Homo sapiens: one gene and its partner. The protein of the gene in region 2 interacts with the protein of the main gene of each other region in a biochemical or structural test. Each region holds a gene or a part of one and is shown on either strand. Other genes may lie near its edges.

Region 1 (10,715 bases), on a different chromosome or scaffold from region 2:
TGAGCCATCGCGCCTGGCCGATCAAATTCTTAAAAAAAAAATCAAAATGAAATACCAAGGGTACAAAAGTAAAAAGTAAATCATTTCTGCTAACCAAGTAAATAGAGTACACACAAAATACAAACAAAAACATCAGGATAAAAATGCACTGAATAATCTGTGAGACAAAAAAATAGGTACATTGACAAGCATTAAGTTTTATCAAGCCCATACACATTTCAATAATGTACTCTGAAAATTTTAAAAGGCTGAATCACAAGGAAAGTTTGAACTTCTCTCTATGGACACTACTTAACATAAGAACAGATTTTTAAAAGGCATATGCTAAATGTCTGTACTCCTAGCCCATATATATATATATTAAGAGGGAAAAAAAAAACAACTACTTCTTGTCACAAGTTATAGGGAAACCTAGAAACAATTGTGCAAATTAATAACTGGCAATTCATTTCTGCATGTTGGGTTTTTCTCCAACAAGCTTTATTTGTTACAAAAGCCTTTAACTGTATTATTTCCCAAAATACCATGTGATGGAATGAATGCTACACCCTTCCCTCTGGGTCAAATATCACCAAAATAGCTTTAAAATCCTATGTAACAGATTTAGTTAGATTGACTTCGGAGCAAATTATTTACGAATATCTTTTCTTGCAACATGTCTAAACTGCTGGAGTACCCCAAGGGCCACTCTAATTTAAGCACTTCACGAGTAGACCTGAATAGTAAATTAAAATGAAGAAAGGCAAGAATGGAATGATGGCCTTTAGTACGGACCCCAGAAAAAAGTTACTCTGTGTTCTGGAATAATGGGCTGCCCGGCAATGAGACATATCCAATCCACTTGCCGTTATAGTCCTCTTTGTAAAATGGCACCTTTGCTTTTAATCCATGAGTCCACAACATTTTTTTCCATAAACAGTTCTCACCAGCTCTCCCTGCCCTCAAAGAACTTACAATGTGGTTGAGGAGATCAACAAATAAACATCTATGTTTAAGTGCTATGCTAGGGGTGAGCACATTGCAAAACAGAAGGGGAAGGCTCTTGAACCAGTCAAGGGGGTGGGGATCTTCGGCAAGTACACAAGGAAAGCTTTGTAAGGAATAAGGTCAAAATGAGGTGACATGTGGAGGAGAAAAAGCATTCCAGGCAGAGTAAACCTGTACATATGTCTAGAAGCAAAATAAGCACGAGAATGTTCAGAGAACTCAAAGTACTTCAGTATGGCTTAAGGTTCTCTAGAGTGCAAGGGAGAAGATAATTTAAAGATGATAACTAGACAAGTAATTAGGAAAAGCCTTACAAGCGGCATGAAGGTGTTTAAGCTTTAACTCCAGGGCAATGGATCCACATACCCACAAACACTCCTCCCTCCAGTCCCTAATCCTGAGGATCATTTGTAATCTTTGTTAACAAGGGGAATAAACATTAAAATATAAACTGAAAGTGTATTTCTCAAGGAATGTTTTCCTACCTGCCAAGCCTTGAGTTCAGGTTTCTGGGATTCCCCTGCTACAACTGATGAAGCCACTAACACCTAAAGCAGTATAAGGAATGCAAGGGATGTCATTAACTATAACAAACGATACACAGAAGCCTGAACGCAGGACTTTCACTGCAGGACTTTTAAACCCATTTCTAAACAGATTAGTTCAAACAGAGAAAATTAGTTTCTAAAATATGGTTCAAGTAGTAACTAATGCAACTAACAGAAGGTGTATTTTGAGCTACGATACCTGCAAAATTTAAAGAGAGAAGGCATGGAAAAAAGAGAGTCCACTGTCAAAAGAAAAATGTGACCACTAAATGCAACCCCATTATTTTGTGTTTATGGCATAAGAGTTGTTACTGTGAATAAATTGAAAAGTATGTATCACACTAATTTGTAGTATCTCATAAGCTGGCAATTACATTTGGAAAAAAAATAGAACATAAGTAGCCTACAAGTCTAACCAGAGAAAACATCCAAAATACCAATTGTGACATCTGAGACAAATTACTTGTATTGTAATTCAAAGTGACAAGTAATTCTTACCCTCTGGACTTTTGTACTGTTAGGTTGAGAAAAATGGGTGCTGTTTTCCTTTATATCTAAATGTTTTTTTTCTTCTGGGGCATTAGGTCCAACCCTTGAATTATTGGAAGGAAGGGAATTTGGTGGCATAATTTCCTTGGTAAAAAACAGAAAACACAAAAGAGAAAAAAAGGACCAATTTAAGACTTTATTTAGCTCTATTAGTGTTATCAATCATCATATTTTTAAAAAATGTAAGTTATTATAAACAGTTTTGGTTTATAAAATTACCGAATACAAATTGTACGCAGAAAAAAAAGATTTAACTTTAGCTAAAAGAATCTTTCAAAAAGAAAGCTAGACAATATGTGAAAATTACGGCTCTTTGATGAGACAGTATCTTAAGAGTACTATTGCACAGAAAGGTGCATCCTCACCTCTCTACCCCATGCAAATACTTTAAAAGCTGCTACAAAAAGCATATATTTATGAAGATAAAAGGGTTACAGAATTTAAAGGTAAGGAGGATGGGGAAGAGATATTAAGCACAGAAATAAATTTAAAGCACACAGAATAAACACACATACTACACAATCCCCACACTAAAAAAGTGAAAAGATGAAAGCCAGAAAACCTGTGTTCCAATTTTGCTTTTGTCAGCAACATTAACATTTACAAAGTGCTTTACGAAGCATTTACATATATATTATTTTATTAAATTGCCATTAACACTCGACCCAGTGATGTATGTCTCATATTTAAAAATTTATAACTACCCATTTTAAAGATCAGGAAAAAAGAATTCAATAAAGTGACTAATCCAAACTCACTGCATTAGAGGACAGAGAAGGGCCATTATCTACAATTATAACATTAATTACAGCAGGCATGCTTGATAATCAGAATATTTGCATTCACTTTATGCACATATTAGAGGTCCTCAACATATCACATAAAAAACTTTTACTTTTATTATATGTGCCACAAAATATTCGCACTGTAACATACCTCTTCTTGTGGAACATTTTTCTCATTTTCAGCCTCAATCCTCACCCTCACAACTCCTGACTTGTCCACAATCTCCTGAATCAGCTTTCCATTTTTTCCTATTACTTTGCCTAAGAAATAAATAAATCAAGTTTGGTTTTAAAAACACATACCTCAAAGCAGTAAGCACAGCCCTACTGTAAACTATTACATTCATATAGATAGATATTTTTATGTGTATGTGTATGTATTGAATTGTAAGATTTCAAAACCAAAGTAGAGACTCTTTTCAACAAGATGGTTAATCTGGTTTTCTGTTTAATTAGGACATCATTGTTTAAACTCCTTTGGTCAGGTACCAGAGTTGATTAATACTTGCAAACTGATAGGGTAATTTTGGATTTTTAAGGCAGTTCAAAGATAACCTCTTATTTTTGCACAAAAGGGTACGCTTTAAACTTGCTGGTACTGTGGTATGTATCATTCTTTCTGCAAAGTTCTATAAGAATTAAGAAAAAAGTAGAGAGAATGGGAAATATATTCACTTATTCAACACTTTCAATTCTTGTCTGTACCTGATTTAAATCTGCTTCTTTGTCCATGGTAAATATTTTCAGAATTCTGTATGGAAGGCACATTTATAAAAGATAATCTAAGTCTGAAAGTGGCTTAAGCAGCTATACATACATCCAAAAGGAATACAAATTCTTCAAGGTCAATGTGTTAACAGAGTATCACTCCTGTGCATTACTTACAAACTTTAGCAATGTATTAAAAAGTGAAGGGATTAGTCACAGAGTAAAAGATTAAGAAAACCCACTTTAAGATAACTCAAAACCACAATGAAAAAGCTTTAAACCAATTTAAGTATTTTTCAGTAACATCTATTAAAACTTGGGATTTCAAGTACCAGTAAAAAATAGGTACTTGATCATTTCCTTATTTATTTTACAATCATATACATTACTGGAAAATGACTGCTTTCATTTGCATCATGACACGAGTGGTAAAGCAAGACATTACAAACTTAAGAATTACTAATTCTGGAAATGTACATGTGAACTACATCTGATTCTGAGGGCTCACCCAAGGTACCTAAGTACCCTTACATTGGCCACATCCACCATGTGCTTGCCCTCACCATCTCATCTTCCATTTTTTCCTTTTCGCCTTTAAAGGCAAAGCTCAAGGCAAAGTTGGGGGAAAAGATGGAAGCAAAAATTTGCTTTGAGCCAATGCTAGATAAGAACTCAGTGAAAAGCCTTCTCACAAAAAATTCTTGTGGCTCTTGTAATCAGAGCATAGCTTTGACATTCTTGCTGTGTGTGGCTGCCTCATTCACCCCTAGAAACTCTTTGACTGGTCATAGAACAGATCTGACACCATTAAATCAGGATTCTTGGTCTAGGTCCTTCTGTCAATTATTTCTGTTCTTCTATAACGAAAAGGGGAAAGGTGAGGTGAGAGAAGCTACTTGGAGTCTTCACACAGTTTGATTTTAAACTGCAACACTTACATTTTCATGAATTAATGTTGACTTTAATAAAGATCTAAGTGAGTTAACAAAATGAAAAATGAGATTTGGGGATGTTTTTATTAAGATAATATCTTAATTATCCTAAGTACTGTGTGTTAACTATAGCTGACTGAATAGTCATACCAATTCATTCTTAGTGAGTGAAGAATCCAATTTTAATGAAAAGATAAATTAGTGCACATACCAAAGAGAGTTTGTGAAAAATAGAGATCACAAATAACGTTGGTTGACTCAAACAAAACACATGCAAAACTGATTATGACACCTCTCTAAAGATCTGCCTTGCAGAATCTTACACAAAAATGCTTTCTGAAAAGTTCCAACGTTCCCAGTGTTGCAGTGGACCATCTCTAAAACAGAATTATCTCATTTTACTAACTAGAAACAACAAAACAAAAACAAGGCTGATTTACTTTTAGCAGTCTTTCTGGTTATTTCTGAGATCCTCTTCTTTCCAGGTAACCACAGGTAGAATCTACTTTTAATATTTAATAGCAAATAATCCAATTCTACATTACACTTATTTCCAAATCCCAAAGAGCAATTTACTGTGATTCTGTTCTACTGAAATGGAGTTGTTTTGAATAAGGTGAAGAACAGAGTCCCCTACTGTGTCCAGAATTGTCCCCTACTATATCTTCCAATTTAATTATCACATCAACTCTATGAGGTGGATCCTATTATCACATTTGATAGGTAAGAAAAATAATTCTCAGGGGGGCTAAGACAGTGACCCACGCTCACATTGCCACCAAAGAATAAAGTAGGACTGAAATCCAGATCCAACTCCAATGCCCAAGCACTTTCCCCACTACCATCATGCCATCTTCAAAACCAACTTTAATGAATCTGACACATAATTCTCTACTCATTTGCTATTAAAAAAAAAAAACAAAACAACTACCAGCTCTTTTTCCATAAGAATTCCTAAATTTACAATAACCTTTCTAACTACAAAAGGTATGCAATTGCTTGACAAGCTGTAAAGAAGAAAATAAATATTATTCATCACCCAACTGTCTTGAGATTAGCACTTTATCTTGCGCTATGCATACATTCTGTACACATACAATTGGTATGCAAGTTACCTTAGTAACATTACAAACACATTTCTCCAGTTGTCTGTAGTACACAGTTGAGCTAACACTTCTGCATTATTTTCCTACTATTTGCACTTTATCTTCAAGCTAATTTTCTTTGGGAGATACATTTATCATTTCTAGTGTTTGTTAATGACAAGGAAGATGTTTATGAGTCTATGCTGACAAAAAAGCAGGCTAAATTAGCATTGAAACTACGTAAACAGAATGTATGAGAAGTCCTTGCTTTCTTCTTTAAAGTTTCCAAAGAACATGTATTACTTTATATAAAATGGCCATGATCTCAAGTTTAAAAGATAAAAAACATATAGGCAGTATGTCCCAATTTTATTTACAAATTAAAAACATATGTAGCTTTCTTGATAAAACTGCACCTGGTTTTGATATGTTCTACTAAAGATATCTGCAGCATTTAGGAGTATTGGTGAAGAGCTCCTAAATATTTGCTGATACTCACGATGGTGATGGTGATAAAACACTACTCAAGTCAAAATGAAGAATTACTATTGACTTTGCAGAAAGTCCCAGAGACATCTGAAGTTTCTTCTAGCTTTGGAACTTTTTAGATTTAAGTAACCTATGTTCAGATCTTCAACCCTGAGATAATTAAAATGAATGCTATCATTTTATAGTCCCATAAGAAAGATCAAATACAAATCTATTTCAAATCATAAAGTCCCCAAATATCATTCATTTTGAAAAATTATTTAATTTTAAGATATAAAAGGTATACAGTCAGGAGGGCTGGGCAAGATTTATCCTTTCAGGTATTAGTAGGTTTGAACTAGAAAAGCAATCTCTTTTGAATACCTTCTGAAAATGTAACCTTTGAGCATCATACTTAACAAATATTTTTTTGTATGCTGTAAGAACAGATCGATTGAACAATGAGAACACATGGACACAGGAAGGGGAACATCACACTCTGGGGACTGTTGTGGGGTGGGGGGAGGGGGGAGGGATAGCGTTGGGAGATATACCTAATGCTAGATGACAAGTTAGTGGGTGCAGCGCACCAGCATGTCACGTGTATACATATGTAACTAACCTGCACATTGTGCACATGTACCCTAAAACTTAAATAATAAAAAAAAAGAACAGATCATATTTCAAAGACTATGTTTCAATTAAATGATACCCTCCAGTAAGAAAAAATGGAATTCTATCACTATAAATAAACTGTTTACCTAAACTTAGTTGTTGTACTATATGTCAACAGATACTTCTGACTTACCTACTAAGTTCCTTGGAACTTGTATTACATCTTCAGCAAATTCGAGAAAGCTTCTAGCTTTTTTCACTGCATCCTGATCCTAATAAAAGGGGAAACATTTTAAGACAAAAGATTAGCCAGCTGAAATACTTGTTTGGGGAAAAAAAAACTATGCAGTAAAATATTTACCTCTCCATAAATATGAAATGTGCAGGTATCTTCATCTAGATCAATAGCAGTGACCCCAGGTACTTTTCTAGCTTGCTGAATATTAGCACCATGAGTACCAATAGCTAGACCCATCAGATCTTCTCTTACGATAAACTGTTCATGAAATCTCGAGGCAAGCTGCCTTGAACTCTGAAGAGAAATGGACGTCTGATGAATACACTTTATCAACTATTACGACAACTGTATTTAGGCCAGCCATGTAAATTATCTTGACCCTGTATATGAGGGGTCCATAAATTATTAATAGTTTTAGGTTAAAACTAACAGGTTTTAGAAAATACCTCTCACAGCCTAAGTACTTTTTAGGTTACTAAAGGTCTATGACATTTTATATGTTTTTGTTAATAGGAAAGAACTTGTTGACATTTTCCAAGGTAACTGCTGAAAACTTATCACAAGGCTGCCTTAGTTAACCAATGACATCAGCAATATAATAACTAAGAAGCAGGTCAAATGTTCCCCAGTAAAAACCAGCTCACTCGGTCTGACAAACTCAATGTTACTTATTTAGGTAAAAAAATGTTTAAATATCATCTTTATAGAAAATTTTATTCGCTTCATTTTTATTAAAAGGTATCAGTATATATTTTCTGGAAACAGTGCCATTTTTTATAACATCATTAGGTACTGTGGTCTAAACATTCCTCTGTTGAAATGACATTAAAATGACACCTCCCTCAAAACCTAAGGAATCAAAAATTGTTGGTACAGTAGTTAAACTGAATAATCAAAAAATGTCAAAAATTAAAAACTTAGTAAGCATCTGAAAGCTAACATGAGACCAGAGTCCGTAAGACCTTGTGATCTGGATCCACAATTATGATGAGCACTTGTAAATATCCAGTGATGACGAAACTAAGTTACACTGACATCCCAAACTTGTGGATAACCACTGTCTTTAAATACCATTATCAAAATTTAGTGTTCAGTTCTAGCATGCCATTAATGAAAACCAAACGTATTAGTGGCTCATGTTGAAAAATGGGAATTTCTTATAGGAACATGTAAATCTCTTTAATATTAGTAGTGAAGAAAGATAGGCATGCATACTAGTTTCTCATTGTTCAACAGACCTGATAATTTGAATGAATGAATACAACTAGCATAAATAATTTAAAAGTGCAATACCCATTTTTTTTAGACTAGAGTAATAAAATCTATAAAATAATTCTAGGACTTTTCAAGAAGTCATGTTTTTTGAGTCCTGGTTCATTAATCTGGTTCGTTCTTTTTCATTGATAATTCACTGATAAATGGTTAGCCAAAAGTATGATAGATCATTTAAGAATAATTCGATGTTTAAGAGGCATATGAGTATATTTTCATAATACTCACAATCAAAGTAAGGAGGCAGCTCTGGGCTAAAAGTTATGAGAGAATCACTGAAGGAACCACAAAATCATGAACACAGGGACATCAAGAAAGAATGAGAGCAAAGACCAATTAAACAGACCTCCATGGCCTTAAGAAAAAACAAAGTGGCAAAAGGAGATTAAACTTTTCCCCTTCTGCTAAGAGTTCAGCATCATACATCAAGTTGACAGGTGGCAAATTTCACAGGGTTTTTATAAGAACACAGTCTTGACTACCTTTTCTCCTAAAATGCAGTTTGGAACTCCTTTTTTTCTTTACTATTTCAAATGTGTGGTGTTTTCCTTCTAATGAATAATGATGACGAACTCTGGAATTTGACAGGAATATAGTAGAGCTGGCACATTCATCTAAGATCCACTTAGTTTCTATAGTAATGGATGGACGTACTTGATAGTTATCAATGAAAACAAATATATGGTGATGAAAATTATTGGAGGATTAATAAAAGTAGATAAAATGCACCTTAAGAGACAAAATAGTAAGTTAGGGAAATAGCCTCTGGCGGGAATCTGAAGACAGGAGTTTTAAAGAATGACAACCAATTAGAATGAAGAAGTTCTATACCCTTTTAAACAAAGATAAACATACATAATGAGAGGAATATGATTAGATATTTAAATATTCTCTAGTATTTTTAATGACAACATGTTATATGGAAGAAGCATTGCCGCATTTTATTAGCAACTTTGATAAACTTCTAGTAAAAGTGAAAGTACCAGAAGTCCCTTAATATACATAAGCTGCTGTTTAATTTTGAAACCTCAGGCATGGAAACTTTAGTATGATTATGCTTTGTACAATTTTCCAACTATAGAACCTAAGGAATTGTTAAGAAGCAGTAAATAAATGACAAGCTCCCCATATTCAAGTTGTGGAATGATACAGTTAATCGTTCCTAGGTACCCTTACAAGCAGTGCTAGGGAAAGTGACATACCTCCAGCTGCTTACTAGCTTCTTCATTTCTCATTATCAGAGACAACTTAGTGCGCAGACTCCGAAAGTGCATGTCAATCAGCATATGTGCTCGCTTTGAGGTGACTTCATTGATGGACTAAATGATTTAAATTAACAACATTATTATCAAGGCAATTGCCCCAGATGAATTAAACTAAAAATAAACAACTCAAAAATGCTCACCAAAATGACAAGCTGATAATTTTCTGGATCATAAGTTACAGAAAAGGCACCAACTGCCTTTTTAAAATCCTTATGTGCCGCCTCTTTGGCACACCTAGAAATTTAAAAAAAAAAATTAAGATGAATAATTACCAACTACTGACATAAATAAATGCAGGCAGATTTACACATACAAGAATCATGGATTCATATTAAATTTGATTTATGCAAAATATGCTATATCCATTTAGAAGCTTAGCTCCTTTTCTGTACATTTCTGAAATACAGCTTAGATTACCAAAAGAGACATATTCAGGGGAACCACTCTACACTACAGGTTTCCTGATTTCAGTTACATACAAGTCAGTAGTTTTCTTAAGTCAACTATTGAAAACTTTTGGAGATAGCTACCTACAGGGTATCTGATTTCTTTCTTCTTCTCTTGTTGCAGGCCTTTTTTTTTCCTTTTTTTTTAATTTTTAGTTTTGTGGGTACATAGTAGGTATATATATTTATGGGGCATATGAGATGTTTTGATACAGGCATGCAATATGAAATAAGCACATCACGGAGAATGGGGTAAGAAACTGCTAAACGATTTGAGGGAGAGAAGGAAACGTACATGAACCAGAAGGCACAAAAATTTACACACATACACAATCTCTAGAAAAGGGAGGATTTCTATGTATTCTGAACTGCAATTTAATGTTCAACAACATGTCCAAATCAAACGTACTGTATTCACTTAATAAAATCTGTAAAAAATAAAAATGCGTCTCTTCTATAGTCTTTAAGCATTATTCCAGATCAAGGATTGTAAGATGAGATGACTTTTTAAAGCTTCTTTGGCTCTACTTATTACACATTTATCTGAAAACATTTTAGGTAAAAGAGAAAAAAACGGAGAAATCGTTTATAGTTTGTGACTTATGACAGAATTATCACATTTGTTTGATCAGTTTTTAAATCTTAGAATGAACAAAGTTAGTTTAGAAAACAAATGTACATTATGTACATCAGACACGTGTATAGCCAAGTAAGTTTAAACAAGCGCAAGGCTGCCTTGATTCTATAAGTAGGAAAAGTTAAATAAGTTTTTTCTCCATTGCTCTTGCAAACCAAACCATTTTTGCCAAAGTCCACC
Region 2 (17,644 bases):
TACAGGGAAGTGTGTTGACAATTATAATGCAGACTAATACGTGGGGTGATAGAGGGAGCCCAGGCAGCTAAGGACACATAGACAACTAATCTCAAGCTAACCCAGACATGTAGGAATCTTGGAGGAAGCGACATCTAGAGGAATACCAGGAAGATGAACAGAACTTCATCAGGTAAACTGGGAAAAAGTGTGGAATGTGGAGGGAGGGAATGGGGGGACAGAAACTGCCATTGAAGAAGCCTTGCATGTACGAATGTCGAGCACAACAGAGAACACAGCAAGTTTGAGGAACTAAAAGCTGTTCCTTTTAGCTGAAGCACAGCAAGCTTGTTCACATGGAGAGATAGCTGCCAGCTCTTAAAGACCCTCTCCGGCCACTGGAGAGTTTGGGCTTCATCGGGGGGCAGTGGGGAGCTAGGGAAGTGCCTTAAGCCTGGGAGGGACGTGCCCTTTAACTCATGTAATTTTCCACATTCAGAGGGAAGTTGGAGAGCATCCAACTTACTTCACTTAACAGGTGAGGAAACAGGGGTGAGGCTCCTTGCCTAAGATCATTCTTCTGTTAGTTGCAAAACTAGAACCAAAAGGCAAGCCTCTGGATTTCCAACACAGTGGCTTCAAAAGACCATACTGCTCTCCTTTATACACAAATAGAACTCAGAGGTCGGAGTTATTTTTGCCTAAGATCTAACCAAATATATATGTAATAGTCTTTTCTGTTTTTAGGCAACTTGTTCCTGAAGGTGAAAAGACAGGGAAGGAACAACAGGGAGAAATACGTCTTCCAAAAAACTATACCATCTGCAATAATATGCCCCTTAGAATGAAAATCTGATTTATTGGGATTCTCATTGTTAAGTATTTGTAATCACTGAACTTGAAATCCCAAGGATCACGGTGGAAAATGAAACATTTTTTAAAAAGGAAACCTCAGTTCTGTTTTTAAACCCATCCTCCACAAACACCCCCACAGCTTTTCACACTGAACCAGGGAAGAAATGTATGTGTGTGTATATATATATATATATAAGTCATTTTTTTCCGAAATAGCAATTTGAATTGGAATTAGCGATTTAAGATCAAACCACAAGGAATTATGGATTCTGAGCACGTGGGAAATAAGGTGAGATCAGTAAAGGAAAGCAAAGGCTTCCACAAGTCCTTTGCTGGAGCTTGAATAACGGGGCTCCTCCACAAATTGCCCTTATTAGGAACAGCTGAGTGATTAAGTATAAATTTGTGGGCCTTAGGAAACCACTCCTTATATCTACATACACTCCACAATGTCTCAAATGTTTTCAAATTATTTACCCTGTAAGGTATAAAGGGCAACTGTTATTCCCTGTGTTGCAGATACGGTGACCTCTGTGGAGCAGAGTGGTGAAGTGACCTGCTCAGGTGTCTCAAGGTTAGAATTTGGTGCAGCCTGACTTCAGCCTGGTCTGAAGGCCTACCAGGCTGGATTTCAATGAGAATTGTTTCTTTCTCTTTTTCTTTTCTCTCTTTCTTTCTCTTCTTTCTTTCCTTCTCTTCTTTCTCTCTCTTTCTTTTTCTTTCTTCCTTTCTCTCTCTCTCTCTCCCCCCGTCTCTCTCTTTCATTCTTTTTTTTTTTTTTTTGAGACAGAGTCTCACTCTGTCACCCAGTCTGGAGTGCGGCGGCAGGATCATAGCTCACTGTAGCCTCAATCTCCCAGGCTCAAGCAATCCTCCCACCTCAGCCTCCTGAGTAGCTGGGACAAAAGGTGGATGCCACCACACCCATCTATTTTTTTTTTTTTTTAATTTTTAGTAGAGATGAAGTTTCGTTGAGTTGCCCAGGATGGTCTCCAATTCCTGAGCTCAAGCAATCCTCTCTCCTCGGCCTCCCAAAGTTTTGGTATTACAGGTGTGAGCCACCGCTGGGCAGATAATTGCTTCTTTAAAGAGCCCGACACGGCAGATAAGCCTTGAAGAGAAAGGTACCTGTCCTCTCAGTGCTTCCTGCCACCTATTTGTCCGTTAGGCAATTCTTCCAGAATGAAGTTGAGGCAGGCCCCTGTAAAAGAGGTGGCAGCTTCAGGGACTCTTCTCCAGGGAACTGGAAGGGAGCGGAAGAACTTATTCTTAAGCGAAGGAGCCCTATCAGCGACCAAGCTCAATTGGTGGAAGGCCCCTTCCCCTAGCCCCAGTTGCATCTTCTGTCACTTCACCCTGCTCCTTCTCCTCAGAGCACTTTGGGCTGTAACTGGACGTTTGCTAGGTTAATTTACACCTGTTTCTCCTGGCAGGTGATAAAACTCCAAGGGGGCAGGACCCTGTCTTTTGTACACCAGTGCACACCCAAGTCCTGGCACGGTACTTGGAACAGGATAGGTAATCAATAAAGACTGGGTTGATAAAAGAGCACTTGGAAATCATGTGGGGCCAATAAGATCCGAACGCGGCCGAAGCTCTCGTCCTCGGGTTGCTGCAGGTGTGGTTCCCGGTGATGGAGGCCGTGGAAGAAGCCTTCCCTCCCTTTCCCGCCCCCAGGGCAGGAAGCCTGGGGGCTGAGCGGTCCTCCGAAACCGAGAGGCAGGTCCTGGGTGCGCCGGCGGTACAGCGGAGAGCGTGGAGAGACCCTCGCCGCAGCCATTTCCTGCCCTTTGTGTGACAGCCGCTGCGGCGAAGGGGCGGGCGCTGGGTGGGGGCGGAGCCGCGGCGGGCGGAGCAGCGGGGCCGGGGCGGGGCCGAGCGCGGCGCAGCGGAGCGGGGCAGAGCATCCTGCGCCCCGGCGCGGGGCCCTGCGGTAGCCTCAGGCCCCTCCCCTGGACCCGCCGCAGAGCCAGGTAAGCGGCCCTCGCAGGCCTCGGGCCGGGCACGGGGACTAGGATGCCGCCGGGGACGGGGATGAGGCCGTGAGGATGCGCGAAGGGCCGCCCCCTCTCCCGGCCCGCGGGGGGCGCTCGGCGCTGTGCCCGGGCTAGCCCGAGGCCCGGCCTCAGGCCCCACGCGGCCCCTTTCCCCCTCGGACCCACCGTGCGTCCCGCGGCACGGACCCTCTGCCCGGGAGGCGCGGGCACATCGCGGAGCTCCGGCGCGGCGGCGGGGGAGCCGCAGCAGCAGGTGCGCGGCCTGGGCCGGAGCCGCCAGCCCGGGAGGAGGCGGTGCTAATCTCAGGGACCGGAGACACCTGCAGCGGCCGCGAGCCCGGCAGCGGCGACATCCTCGAGTCCAGGTACTGCAGAGCGCTGGCCCCTGCCTCTGCCGCCGTGACCACCGTCACCTCCCCCAGGGCCAGCGAGAGCCGCCTGGGCCCGCCTGGCAGCCGCCTCGGGCACACAGAACGTGTGATGGGTGGGGCGAGGGGCGCAGCGTCGATGTTTGGGGGCGGAGGGCTTTGATGAGAGAGGAGCAGGTCTGACCCGCTTGGAAGCTTTCTGGCCTACACTAGCATCGCTCACCAAGCTGGCTGCGGGCACGGTGGAAGTGGGGGAAGGGGATGAGTGGGCTGACTCCTGGGGGAAAAGGTGGTTTTTTTCTTGAGCTCTGAAGAACCAGGAAGATGCTTGCCTGTCTGTTGTGGCGTCTACTTTTCAGGTCAGCCCTACCCCTCACCCCAAAGAACAGCCCACCTATGTGCAAAAGAAGAGGAGGAGGTGCTCTCTGCTTGGGGATGGGGGCAGGTAGCATGTTCCACATAAGTATGGCCCTCTATATCCAGAACCCGGCTGGAAAGGACACTGACAGCCCAGGTGCCTCCCCAGCACAGGGAATCTGATTTTGACCTTTGCTTGCCTACTTTCCCCAGCACAGTGGAAACACTCACCAGGGCTGATGAGCCATCAGCTGTCCTTCCAGCTAGGCCAAGAATGGGACAAGGATCTTTTTCTGCTAGTTCCTGGGTGCCTGTGCCCTCAGCATGGGCAGGGAGACGGAGGCAGGCCTGCTGGCAGGAGGGGCAAATCAGGAGACTGTCGGTTCCTGTGTTCCCATTTCCTGCCTCCTGTCTGTGTCCCAGTTAGGGCAGTGGGTCTCACCTTACTCTTGGATACAGGCTGTGCCAGCAACCTGGGTCCCTGAGATCTTAGAGGGCAAAAATCAGGTCCATATCTTTGGGCAGGCCTGTGAAGGCCTTGATGGTTGCTTTCTCCACCATTAGACCCTCTCTCTGTGGCCCTCCTGGTGGCCTCCCACCTCCACTTCCATACAGTGCCCTGCCCTTCCCCCAGTCTCCAGTGTCAGAAATGGTTTTCAAGAAAGGAGCCAATGATTGTGTTTATCTTGAAGAGCTAAATACAAAAGAAGTTCCCATTTGATGCAGAGCAGGTGCTTTACAAGTCATTTGACCGGAAAAGAAACAGAGGATGGAGGCATTTTAATGGGAAACAAAGCTTTAATGGGAAACACTGTAGAAATATTTGCTATCACTAATGGTAGAATTTCAAACAGTGGGCTGGAAGTGGAGGTGGGGAGCTGGGTAGTTCTTTTGGGAACGGGTCCCTGAAATGACAATATCTAGCAGCTGTCAGCTCTGTATTTGGCAAGGGCAGCTTTGGCCCTGCAGGCAGGAATGCTGTAAGAGTGTGTATGCATGCATGTGCATGCGTGCATGTTTGTTTGACTGGTCAGGTGTTACTGTCACCAGAAGGCATTTTTTGAGCACCCAGTGTCCACTTTCGGGATGAGAAACTTGTGTACACAGGGTTCCTCGTTGGCATTGGCTGCCCTTTGCCAAGGCAATTATTAGACCTCAAGAAGATAGTGTTGTTGCTTACAAAGTCAGTGCCTCTAGCTAGTTGTGCGCACTGAGCCTCTGGCTGGGGGCATTAGCTCTCTGCTCACTAAGCTTCTTTATTATATTTCCTGGCCAGTTCTGACCGGTTCTGTAGGCACCCAAGGCTGCCTTGTTCAGTCCCTGCTGGAAAATGAAAAAGGAAAAACTTGCTTTAGGCATTAGGCCAAGAGTCGGATGTACAACCCAGTGGGGTTGGAGAGTTTTACTCAAATCAGATGCTGGCCCAGAGAAGGAAGTAGACATGAATTCAAAAACCGGTAAAAGGCCCTGGTAGAACACTACATGACCCCTCTGATAAATCATGCCCTCTCTGATGTTCAGTGGCCTCTGCTGCTGTCATCAACCAGAAAGCTGAATGAGATGATGAATCGGCTACAAGCTAATTAACGGGAAAAGCGCTCCTGGAAAACAGTACGGGTCCCAGTCCCTACGTTTAAAGATTGGACTACACTCTCAACGCAGCTTCTTTGGACCACTGTTGGCCCCAGGGGTCCACCAAAAGCGTCACAAAATGGCCTTTTGTAGCCTCCATGTGGCCACCGTAACAATGAGTCTATTTCTTTACTGGCAAGTATTAATTATTCACTTGTAATTGACAAAGCCAGACATCAGTCACCTCACTGGAGTCTTTATGAAAGGCTTTTGGTCCTGTCATTCTGAGGAGCAAAGCCATGCCTAGGGTCCAGGGGATGGCCCCTGCATCAGTAGTGAGATGGTGGGAGAAGGGGGGCAGGCTGCTGCCTTCTTGGCAGTGAATGGAGGCAGGGGAGGAACTAGAATATCTTTGGATGCTCTTACTACCCAAGGGGTGCATGAAAGTGCCGAGCAGAATGCTTAGCACATAGTAAGTACTAGCATATTTATGTATTTATTGTTATAATGTATTAATTACATAATCATTAAGAATTTGGCTTATGTATGTAATCAACCCTTGGCTATTACCAGCCCCTCTCCCTCCAGAGCTTTCCTGAATTTTGCTTTTTTGAGGGAAGTTGGTCTCTGTGACCAGTAAACCCAGCCCCAAGTTTACCGGCCGAAGGAAGGGAAAGTTAAGAGTGATAGGGCATGAAGTGAAAGGCTTCAGGTGGGAAGTGCTCTTAAGTAGCACAAGAGAGGTGGGTGGAACCTGAGTAGGTAGGGAGAAGTGGGAGGGAACAAGCCAAGCAGAAGCCCAGGGCCATTCTCACATTTCAACACGTAGAGTTAAGGAAGGGCCTCTTCCTCTGTGAGAATTCAGCATTTTGCAACCATCCAAAAATGTTGAGGGCATGCTTTGCTTCCAGGGCAGACAGAGCAGCACAGTGAGCATGGGACACAGGATCCCTGACTTGCTGTGTGCCCTTAAACCAGCCACTACCTCTCTGACGTTCAAAATTGAGCAATGGAAGGCAGCCTGCCCAACTGTTACCTGCCTGTCATCATGAAAGCCTGCGGATGAGGTAATGTCTGTAAATCCCAGTCTGAGAAAAAAAAGCCGTGGAAATAGAGAAGGAGCCTCCTGAATGTGTGACTCTTTTGGGTAAATGCCCTCCATTCCTTAAGAAACAATTTATTAATTATATATTGTGTGTCACTTTAAGAAGATGGATCTGTGGCCTCTCTGTACTGTTGAGCCAATGGGAAGCTTAAAGGCACTTTGTGATTCACAGATTCTGTCAAGGCCCCTGGATGGCCTTGTCTGTACAAAGACACTTCAGAATTCAGTCAGTGGGTATGGGACGCCTCCCAGGATGCAAAGAGCTTAGATATTGGCTTTCTAGCCATGGGCATTATGCTAAGGGCTGTGTGTGATGTACCTCAAAAAATAGCCATTTAAGCCATACTTGGGCCCTGGCAACAGAGGGTGCAAATTCTTGAAAGAAATTGTTTTGAGAAGGCAGAGCTTGAGTTCAGGCAGAATTTCTTGCAGGGATCATTCTGGTTGCGTGGCATTTTGATAGACTTTGGGCAACTCAGATACAGGCAGTGAGAGAGGGAAGTAAATAGGACCTTCTTGCGAGATGCCTGAGAAAGACCCAGTGATGACTTCATCAGTAGACCTTTTGATTCTGTTTGCGTCATTATTTGGTCATTGTAGAGCAATGGTTCTTAGGCTTTAATCTCTAGGTAAAACAGAGGTGTGTTTAGTCTGTCCATGTTCTCTGTTTTCTAAGTAAGGCAGGAGGTGAGGTCCTCTGCAGGAAATAAAGGTGATGGACTGGTTAGGAAACTTCAGGAGACTTCAGGGTTTGGAACAGTTGCCTATGTGGGTGGAATAAGAAATAAACTGGGGAAGAATGAGAGAATTGTCTAACTTCACTGAAGGCCTGGCTGAGATCAAAGAGAATTTGCAGGGCTGACCCTCAGAGAAGACATGCAGTAACTCTTAAGGAATATCCGAGAACTATTTTTGATTTGTGCTTTTAAAATATGATGCTTTAAGATTTGTTTTGGCAAGATATGAATGGCAAGATAAGAATTCAGAACTAGAGGTCAGCCCCCTATCTCCAAGTCTGTTATACTTCCATATGGGAAAGAGAAATGAGGACCTGCTTCTTAGGGTTTGAAGTGGAAACTATACGACAGAAGGATTTTCTAAAGAACTCTCCTCAGATTCTTATATTGACAAGGCAGCCTTGGATATGGGACCTTAGAGAAGCATGATATTTTAACTTTCTTGTTAATTTTTTTAAACCAGAAGTTAAGAATTTTGGTCATTGGCTCATGCAGTCAACAAATCATTCATGAAGTATTAATTAAGCAAGTAATTCCTGGTGTGTGCCTATCTCTGTGCTGGTTGCTATGGGTCAAACTCAGATAAGATGACTATCCTTGGCATTCTTAGCAATCCAAAGAATTAGTGAAATATAAAGCAGTTTGTCGTGCAGTTAAAAACTGTGGACTCTAGACTGTGAGTGCTAAGGGAGTGAGAGAAATAAAGGTCATTAAGGGGCTTGGCTGGTCAGACCTTTGTGGAAAAGGCATGTCTTCGTGTGGGCCATGATAGATCGGTAAGATTTGAGAAGGGAAGAAGACAGTCCATAAGGGAGTGGAGACAGTTTGAGCAAAGGCACAAAGGAAGAGTATCCTTGGACAGGTTTATTATGCCCTGTATACCTTGGCCACAGAGAATGGTCTGCATGATCCTTAACACATGTCTTTAAGGAAGCCCTTTGGATGGAATGTCTCAACTGTAGTCATGGTCATTTGCTTTAGTGTTGGGAGGGTCCTGAGAGAGGCCCAAATCCAGTGATTCTTAACTGGTTGCTGTTGTGGTTTTTTTAGTACACAAAATGGACAATGTTGACATGCTGAACACATCAGCCCCCACAGCCAACCCCCCAACTCTGCTCCATTCCTGCCACTCAAGGGAAGAGATGAACATGCAAGCAATAATATCACACAGAGATCTTGAACCCTCGCCTCACATACAATAAAATGTACCTTGTTTGCAAACCTCAGTGCTTAAGCTATTATTAGCACAAGTTACCCGCAATAACCTTCACAAGGCAGGTTTGGACATCATGGTTGAGAGAGAACCAAGGCTAACCTCCACATTTTACAGACAGAGAAATTTGCCCTTTTAGAGTGAGTGAAAATGTGATTTGGGGGCCTTTGTCTTCATACTGAGCCATGTTCGAGTTGTGGTTTCACATCGATGGAGCTGAGTTCCACGTGCTCCGATCTGGTGGCCAGACCTGAAGCCCTCCTCTTTGTTTCCGTAGCAGATGCATGGCTTCCCTTGTGAGTTTTAGCAGGTGCATCTGAGAGGCAGCTCCTCTCCCCACATACGCGTCATGTTGGTGTTCCTCATATGACAGCCCCAGGGCCCCAGCAGGAGCAAATCAGCAAGCCACCTTGGTGGCATGACTTCCCCTCCTGAGAGCATGAGGCCGTTCCCCTGAGCTGCTGGTAGCCTGGTTTGGTGTCACCACAAAGGCCACCTCAACCTTAACAACACAGGAAGCAGCTGGGCAAAATGGCAAACGAAGGGGAAAGTCCTTTAGCCCCCACCAAGATCTTTTTCTCTGTCTACTCAGTCTACTCATAAACAACGAGGAGGATAGGCCTTCTCCAGTGGCCCAAGTCGAGGCTGACTTGATTTCTCGGCTCTGACTGCAGGTCCCCTGTGTGGAGAGAAGCTGTAGGTGATAGGGCCTCTGGTCCCGGAGGACAGGAGCAGGGGACTGAAACAACAAAGACCACCTTGCCAGTCAGTGCTGGGTACCGGCCAGGTGTCTGAACTGCTAACAAGGAGACTTTGGGTGGTTGTCTTCTAAAGCAAATTATTAAATTTTGATCAAAACGATATATACAAATGTTTTAAAAAATCAAATAGTATTGAAAGCCTTATAATGAAAAACAACCATCCAGCACCCACCCTCCCCTAGAGGCTGCCACTTTTAACTCACTGTTTCTTCTAGTAGCTGCCTCCAGATCTCTAAATGATATGCTTACACTGCTGTTTCTCGATTTATCTATTCTGCACGTTGTCTATTTACTTCCTGCTGTGATGGATGGAGATTTCACTTTCTTACACCATCTCCCTCCCTCCCCTGCCCCCGTCTCTCAAGATAGGAAGAGCTCTATTTTAACCTAAATCAGGTTTAAAGTGTCTACATTATTAATATATATAAATGATGATCACAGACAGCCAAGTAAAGTCCTTTGATTATATTTCCTTTCTTAGAGGGCTTTTCATTTCGCTGCAGAATTTTTGTTGCAATACTTGTCTTTTTATTTATCTATTTATTTATTTTGAGATGGAGTTTCACTCTTGTTCCCCAAGCTGGAGTGCAGTGGCGTGATCTCAGCTCACTGCAACCTCTGCCTCCCAGGTTCAAGCGATTCTCCTGCCTCAGCCTCCCGAGTAGCTGGGATTACAGGCGTGTGCTATGACACCTGGGTAATTTTTTAATTTTAGTGGAAATGGGGTTTCACCATGTTGGTCAGGCTGGTCTTGAACTCCTGATCTCAGGTGATCCACCTGCCTCGGCCTCCCAAAGTGCTGGGATTACAGGCACGAGCCACTGTGCCTGGCCCTGTCCTTTTCTTTTAAAGCTCTGTGTCATATGAGTTATTCTATTGCAGTCCCTTGTCTTCTCAGGAAGTGCAGTGTTAACCCTAGCTCCACCCCTAACTAGCCCAGTGACCTTGCACAAGTCCCTTCTCTTTTCTGAGCCTTGGTTTCCTCATCAGTAGAAAGAGAGCTAGGCTCCCTTCTTGTTCTCATTCTAAACCTCAGAACCTATCACCCCACCCACCTCACAGGCAGTAATATTATTACTCCTCAGTTAATATTATCTGAGAAGTCTTTACTCCAGGGTGGGGCAGCCCCAGGACCTGACAGATGGCAGAGAAACCAAAACAGGCAGGGGCAGGGGGAGGGAACAAACAAGCTAGCTGGGCCTGCCCTGTATGGTCTAGTTCACCCCTGCAGTTTAGGGGGCTGCTCTGTGGGGTGGTATGGTTGTATCTATTACTCTTTTCCTCCCCTGCTATCCCCGTTGGTTTTTGCTCTCCACAGCCTCTGCTTGTAGGGGCATCATTTACAGTCCCCAAACTCCCCAAGCTCCTACTCTACCCCCAGCTCTCTTTGTACCCCTTCTGCTTATGTTACACTCAAAGTTTCCCAAAAAGTAGTTATAAAAATACTAACTTTTGGTAGCAGCTTTATTGAAATATAGTTTGCATACTGTACAATTCACTCATTTAAAAAATATAGTTCAGGGCAGGCATGGTGGCTCATGTCTGTAACCCCAGCACTTTGGGAGGTCAAGGTGGGTGGATCACCTGAGGTCAGGAGTTTGAGACCAGCCTGGCCAACATGGCAAAACCCTGTCTCTACTGAAAATACAAAAATTAGCCAGGCATGGTGGCAGGTGCCTGTAATTCCAGCTACTCGGGAGGCTGAGGCAGGAGAATCGTTTGAACCCGGCAGAGGTTGCAGTGAGTGAGATCATGCCATTGCACTCCAGCCTGGGGAACAAGAGTGAAACTCTGTGTAAAAAAAAAAAAAAAAAAAACCGTTCAGTGGTTTTTAATATATTCACAGAGTTGTACAACCCATAATCGTAGTCAGTTTTAGAGCATTTTAGCACCCCAAAAAGAAATCTCATGGCCTTTAGCACCACCACCTATTTCCCCCAACCCCACCCCTTGGCAACCATAGATTTGCCTATTCTGGGCATGTTTAATAAATGGAACAATACAATACGGGGTCTTTAATGATTCGCTTCTTTCACTTAGCATAATATTGTCAAAGTTTATTCATGTTGTATCAATATCAGTACTTAATTACTTTTTATGGCTGAAAAATACTCCATGTGGCTATACAATTTTTTATTTATCAGTTGATGCATATGTTAGTTCTGCTTTTTAGCTATTACAAATAATGGTGCCATGAACATCCATGTACAAGTTTTTGTGTGGACCTGTATTTTCATTTCTCTTGGGTGTATGCCTAGGAGTAGAATTGCTGGGTCAAATGGTAACTGTGTGTTTAAAAATTTGAGGAAATACCAATCGATTTTCCAAAGTTGCGGCACCATCTTACATTCCCATTAGCAACGGTATTCTCAGTTTCTCCACATCCTTGCCAACACTTGTTATTGTCTGTCCTTTTCATTATAGCCATCCTAGTGGGTGTGAAGTGGTATCGATTTGCATTTCCCTAATAACTAAGGTTATTAATCTTTCTGTGTGCTTATTGGCTATGTGTATATCTTTGGAGAAAAATCTGTTCCTTGCCTATTTTTAAAATCAGGTTCTCTTTATTAATGAGTTTTAAGAATTCATTTTTTAAATTTATTTTTATTTAAAAAAATTTTTTTGTAGAAACAGGGTATCACTCTGTTGCCCAGGCTGGTCTTGAACTCCTGGCTTAAGCGATTCTCCCATCAACCTCCCAAAGTACTAGGATTACAGGCATGAGCCACTGTGCCCAGCCAAGAATTATTTACATATTTTATATACTTAGCAAATACATGATTTGCAAATATTTTCTTCTATTCTGTGGACTTACTTTCTTGATGGCGTCCTTTGAAGCACAATTTTTTTTATTTTGATGTTTAGTTTATTTTTTATTTTGTTGCTTGTGTTTTTGTTGTTATTACATAATTCAAGGTCACAAAGATGTACTCTTATGAGTTTTATAGTTTTAGCTCTTACATAGATCTTTGATCCATTTTGAGTTAATTTATTATATATTACATTATTTATACCTCACACCATAAAACAAATTTTGCATGTGGGTATCCAGTTGTCCTAGAATCATTTGTTGAAAAGAATATTCTTTCTACATCTCTTGTCAATTGACCATAAATGTGAGGATTTATTTCTGGATTCTCAGTTCAATTCCATTAATTTAATCATTGTTCATTGTCTTCATGGTAACACCACACAATTTTGATTACTGTAGTTTTGAGTATGTTTTGAAATCAGGAAGTGTGAGTCTTCCATTTTTGTTCAGTTCCTCCCACCCCCAAGATTGTCTTGATTATCCTGAGTGAGTCCCTTGAATTTCCATATGAATTTTAGGATCAGCTTGTCAATTTCTGCAAAGAAACCAGATGAGATTTTCATAGAGATTATGTTGAATCTGTAGGTTAGTTTGGGCAGTATTGCCGTGTTAACAATATTAAGCCTTCCAACCTATGGACATGGGATATCTTTTTATTTATTTAGGTCTTTAATATTTTCAACAAGGTTTTATTGCTTTCAGAGTGTATGTTTTGTACTTATTTTGTTAAGTTTATTTCTAAGTATTGTATTATTTTTGATGCTACTATAAATAGAACTGTTTTCTCCATTTTATTTTCATATTGTGCATTGCTGGTATATAGAGATACTACTGATTTTTATATGCTGATATTGTATCCTACAAACTTGCTGAACTTGTTTATGACTTTCAATAGTTTTTAGTGGATTTTTCTTGGATTTTCTATAACAAGACTATGTTATCTGCAAATAGGAATAGTTTTACTTTTTCCTTTCTAATCTAGATGTCTTTTATTTAATTTTCTTGCATAATTACCTTGGCTAGAACTGCCAGTACAATGTTGAATAGAAATGCTAAGAGCAGACTTATTTGTCTTGTTCTTGATCTTGGTGAGAAAGCATTAAGTCTGATATTAGCTAAGAGTTTTTTGTGGCCACTTATTGTCAAGTTGAGGATATTCTCTAATCCTAGTTTTTTGAGTGTTTTTATCATGAAGGCGTTGAGATTTTGTCAAATGCTTTTTCTGTGTGTATTGAGATGATATGGTTTCTGACCTTTATTGCTATAGCTTATTACGTTAATTGATATTCTGATGTTAATGTTAATCCAATCTTAACATTCCTGGGATAAATCTCACTTGTTCATGATGCATAATCTTTTTTATATGTTTCTGGATTCAGTTTTGCTGAGGCACTAACTTTTATCGAGCACTTTCTACCAGCCAAGCCATTTACATGGACTAACTCATTGAGTTTTCAAAGCCTAAGAGATAGGAACTATCATTATCCCTTATACCAAAATGAAGAGAGTGAGGCTCAGAAAGGTTATGTCACCTACTCAAGGTCACACAACTAGGTATTGGCAGAGGTAAGATTCTAACTCAAGCTATCCAGTTCACCTCCACACTAAAATGCCTCTCATATGGATATCAGTGGTGGACATGGGATGATTTTCAGATAATACCCAGACCTGTGTTTATGTTCATTACTATGTTTTTTATGGCTCCTCTGTTTATGGCATATAATATTAGTTTTCTCTCTGTGATTGTGATATAAAGCTTCCTTCTAAAATGAAAAGTGGCAAAAAAGAGAATCCCTAGAAAAAAATATTAAGTAAGAATTATCCTGGCAGTTTATGGATATGACTATGTATTCTATGCTGATTTAAATTATCTGTATGGGTTTTTTCTCTTTTTCTTTTTTTTTTTTGTGACAGAGTCTCGCTTCGTCACCCAGGCTGGAGTACAGTGGCTCAATCTCAGCTCACTGCAACCTCCACCTCCCAGGTTCAAGCAATTCTGCCTCACCCTCCCGAGTAGCTGGGACTACAGGTGCGCACCACTATGCCCAGCTAATTTTTGTATTTTTATTAGGGATGAGGTTTCACCATGTTGGCCAGGCTGGTCTCGAACTCCTGACCTCAGGAGATCCGCCCATCTTGGCCTCCCAAAGTGTTGGGGTTACAGGCATGAGCCACTGAGTCTGGCCTTATCTGTGTAGCCACCAAGTCCGGTCTTATCTGTGTAGCCACCGAGTCTGGCCTTATCTGTGTTATTAATAGTGAAGGAGAAGGAATGGAAAAACTAGAAGTAAGGACATGGCCAACTTCAGGTCGTCTCCTCTCTCCTATGTTGTCAGGAGATTGAGGTGTGTTCATGAATTCTTTCATTCAGTACTTCCCCAGTGCCTAATCTGTTTGCAGCACTCTGCTAAGGTCTCTGCATTTTCAGTGATAGGTAAGAAAATGGTCCCTGACCTTGAGGAGCTTTCACATGCATGGTTCTACTCCAGAGAGGGCATGTTATGTTTTATTTCATGGGCAAACTCAGATTGATTGCTGGTGGCTTCCTGGAGCTCAGTATTTCATGAGGATTCTGAAGCTGTCTGTGGACTTAGTGGAAAATAGAGTCATTACCAATTAGCAATGTCTGTCCTGGCATGGGAGGAAGAAGTAGCAGTATTTGGGTTTTATTCTGGGGCCAAGAAAACATCATAGAGTGCATTTACACAAACCTGGATGGCATAGCCTACTACACACCTAGGCTATATGGTATATAGCCTATTGCTCCTGGGCTGCAAACCTGTACGGCATGTTCTTGTACTGAATACTGTAGGCAATTGCAACACAGTGGGAAGTATTTGTGTATCTAAACATAGAAAAGGTACAGTAAAAATATGATATTATAATCTTATGGGAACACCATCATATATATGATCCACTGTTGACTGAAGCATCATTATGAGGCAAATGACTGTAAATTTTTTTAATAGGAACAACCTAAATCTCCCTTTTATTTATTTTTATATTTATATATCTATATAATATTTTCTTTGTAGTAATATATGTATACATATGTGTATATATATGTATATGTGTGTGCAGTATGTTTGTGTGTGTGTACGTATACTTATATAGCCTCTGGCTGGAGCGCCATACGGACATGGAAAATATTTCCTGGCCTCTTGATGTTCATGAAACACAAAGGTGACAATTACCTAATCTTTCTAGCTTGCCAGAGTTGTGTTCTTCTTGAGGAAGGAAAAAGCAGCCAAACTGGGAAAAAAATATGTTTGGCACCTTTCAAAAAGGTACAAAACCAGGTGTGGTCTAGAAGAAAAGGCATAGAATTGGGAGTCAAGGTATCCTGTTTCTACCCTACCTCTGCCACTAGCTGACCATGTGACCTTGAATAAAAGTGTTTACTTCTCCATAACACAGTGTCCTCAGAAACACAGCAAAAATTATACCTGCTGAATTGAATTTGCAGGATAGTTGTGATTGAGAAAATCAATGTGAAAGATCTATAGAACTGAGATATTAGTGTAATAATAATAAACCTTCCTTTTTTTGGTAGGAGAATTGTTGGAGTATTTAATTCATCCTCTCTATTGAAAACAGGCCACAGACTAGCGAATGTTAAACGAAAGTATGGGAGGCCATTGTTTAAGACTAAGCTCCTGTACTAGGCCCCTAAAAACCAGACCAAATCAAAATGGAGTCACTCATGCTAAATGCCACTCTCTACCTGAGTCAGCATAATAAGCAAATCCTCTCTGCCTTAATCCTTACAAAAAAGTAACCTGAAGTAACTTGATGTTAACTAATCATTTATTTTTCTATTGTTGTGTTTTCTTATTCCCACCTTACAAAACCCACAGTTTTGCTATTGCCCAGTGGGAGCTTTCATTCTATTGTATAGAAAGGAGGTGCTTCAATTCATAAATCACAAATTAAGGACAATTAATTCTATAAATTTATTGTAATTTTGTCTTTTGACATGTCTTTGCTGGCTACTGTGTTAAGTATTCTACATGCTGTAGTTATATAATCAAAATAAACATTGAGGACAGGCACTATTGTAAATTGTCACCCTTACAAGGTAAGGAAACTGAGGCTCGGAGAGGTTAAGGAACATGCTATTGTTTATATAGCTCATAAGTGGCAGATGACAGATTGAAACCCAGAACTCAAGCTTACCCACTACACTAGCCTAATATTTCACTTCAGTAAAAAGTCTTAATATTTCATTTCTTTCCAGAAAAATCAAACAGATAATGACAATGCAAGTATTTTGCTTACAGAGAAACAGGGTTTAAGCTGTAAATGTCAGAACCTGCATTTCCAAAGCCATGTTCTCCTGGCAGTCGCCCTGCATTTATGGGACCCACCCCCCTCTTGCTTGGGGTCTGTCAGTCATGTCTGCCTGGGGGGGCACCTAAAGCCCCCCCTTCTCAGAAGCAAATTGCTTGTGTGCCCAATGTTATTATTACTTTTGGTGAAACCAGGCCACCGACTGAGTTTGTTATGAAGACACTGCATTTAAACCCATCATGAATGCCCGCCACTGAGAATTTGCAGCTGTGTTTGGTAAATGATGCTCCCAGAACACTGTTAACTTTTAAATATTTTATTAATTTCTTTTTCAAAATGATGAAATGGTCACATGTTCGTAGACCGAATATAAAGAATCATTCTCACTTGGAAGATTGCGTAACAGGCAGGACACTTGGGCAGGAAAGAAGTACGTTCTTATTTTCATTTATACCTCTGTTCAAATTTCCAGAATATTTTTCCTTTCTGATTGATGTGGATTTGGCAGTGCCTACCAGCACTTGAGCTAAAAATGTCGGATTTCCTTCTCCCTTAGGCACTGAATGATCTACCAATGCTCATAGAAATCCACTACAGAAGTTGTATTTGCCAGGGGAGAAGAAAGATAGCATTAACATAAACAGACTCCTAATTTATTTGCTTTGTAGGTTGTTCACTTACTTATTGATTCTCTTCAAGGGATGTTCAGGGGTACTATTATGCTACAGAGGAGAACTTAATGGTTATTCTGGTAAATGAGTATTTTTGTGTGTGTGTGTGTGATGAAGTTTTGCCCTTGTTGCCCAGGCTGGAGTGCAATGGCATGATCTTGGCTCACTGCAACCTCTGCCTCCTGGGTTCAAGTGATTTTCCTGCCTCAGTCTCCTGAGTAGCTGGGATTACAGGCACCCACCACCACGCCTGGCTAATTTTTTTTTTTTTTTTGTATTTTTAGTAGAAATGGGATTTCTACTAAAGAAAAATTGACCAGGCTGGTCAGGCTGGTCTCGAACTCCTGACCTCAGGTGATCCACCCGTCTCAGCCTCCCAAAGTGCTGGGATTACAGGCGTGAGCCACCACACCCGTCTGTAAATGAGTATTTTTTAAGTTTGAGTAGCCCAGAAGAAACCTAGTTACAGGAGAAAAAAAGGGAAGTTGGATAAGAGCTGGGAGCTTATAAACTGATCTAGGGGATTTTATGAAAAATTTGAAACATATATAAAATTGGATGGAAAAATACAGTAATTTCTATGTATGTGTCACACACAATCTATAGTTACTAACTCACTGCGAATTTGTTTCATTTCTATTCACTCTTCCCCCATCTAGTATTATTTAGAAGCAAAACCCTGTGTCCTTTTATCTATATTTTAGTAGATCTTTCTGGAAGATATAGGTTCTTTTAAAACATAACCTTGATATTATCAAACCTAAATACAATATTTCCTTCATATTATCAAATATCCAGTCAGTACTAATTTTCTAATTTTCTCATAAAGTTATAATTTTATTTGTATGGTGGTTTGTTTGAAATAGGATCCAAATAAGGTCCACACATGATAGTGTGTTCAGTCTCTTCAAAATCTATAGACTTTCC

What was found.
Region 1: the proteins of CYFIP2 (region 2) and FMR1 form a complex in vitro, tested with the Homo sapiens proteins (one study listed by BioGRID and IntAct).

Annotation. Positions count from the first base shown.
Region 1 is NC_000023.11:147,928,919-147,939,633, reverse strand, and holds part of FMR1 (fragile X messenger ribonucleoprotein 1), read right to left. Parts: intron 9,687-10,715; coding exon 9,593-9,686; intron 9,507-9,592; coding exon 9,390-9,506; intron 7,210-9,389; coding exon 7,039-7,209; intron 6,950-7,038; coding exon 6,871-6,949; intron 3,131-6,870; coding exon 3,021-3,130; intron 2,169-3,020; coding exon 2,034-2,168; intron 1,536-2,033; coding exon 1,473-1,535; intron 1-1,472.
Region 2 is NC_000005.10:157,263,389-157,281,032, forward strand, and holds the start of CYFIP2 (cytoplasmic FMR1-interacting protein 2), read left to right. Parts: upstream 1-2,734; 5' UTR 2,735-2,807; exon of another isoform or gene 2,808-3,196; intron 3,197-3,392; exon of another isoform or gene 3,393-3,558; intron 3,559-5,935; exon of another isoform or gene 5,936-6,195; intron 6,196-17,644. UniProt on the Homo sapiens protein: Involved in T-cell adhesion and p53/TP53-dependent induction of apoptosis. Does not bind RNA. As component of the WAVE1 complex, required for BDNF-NTRK2 endocytic trafficking and signaling from early endosomes.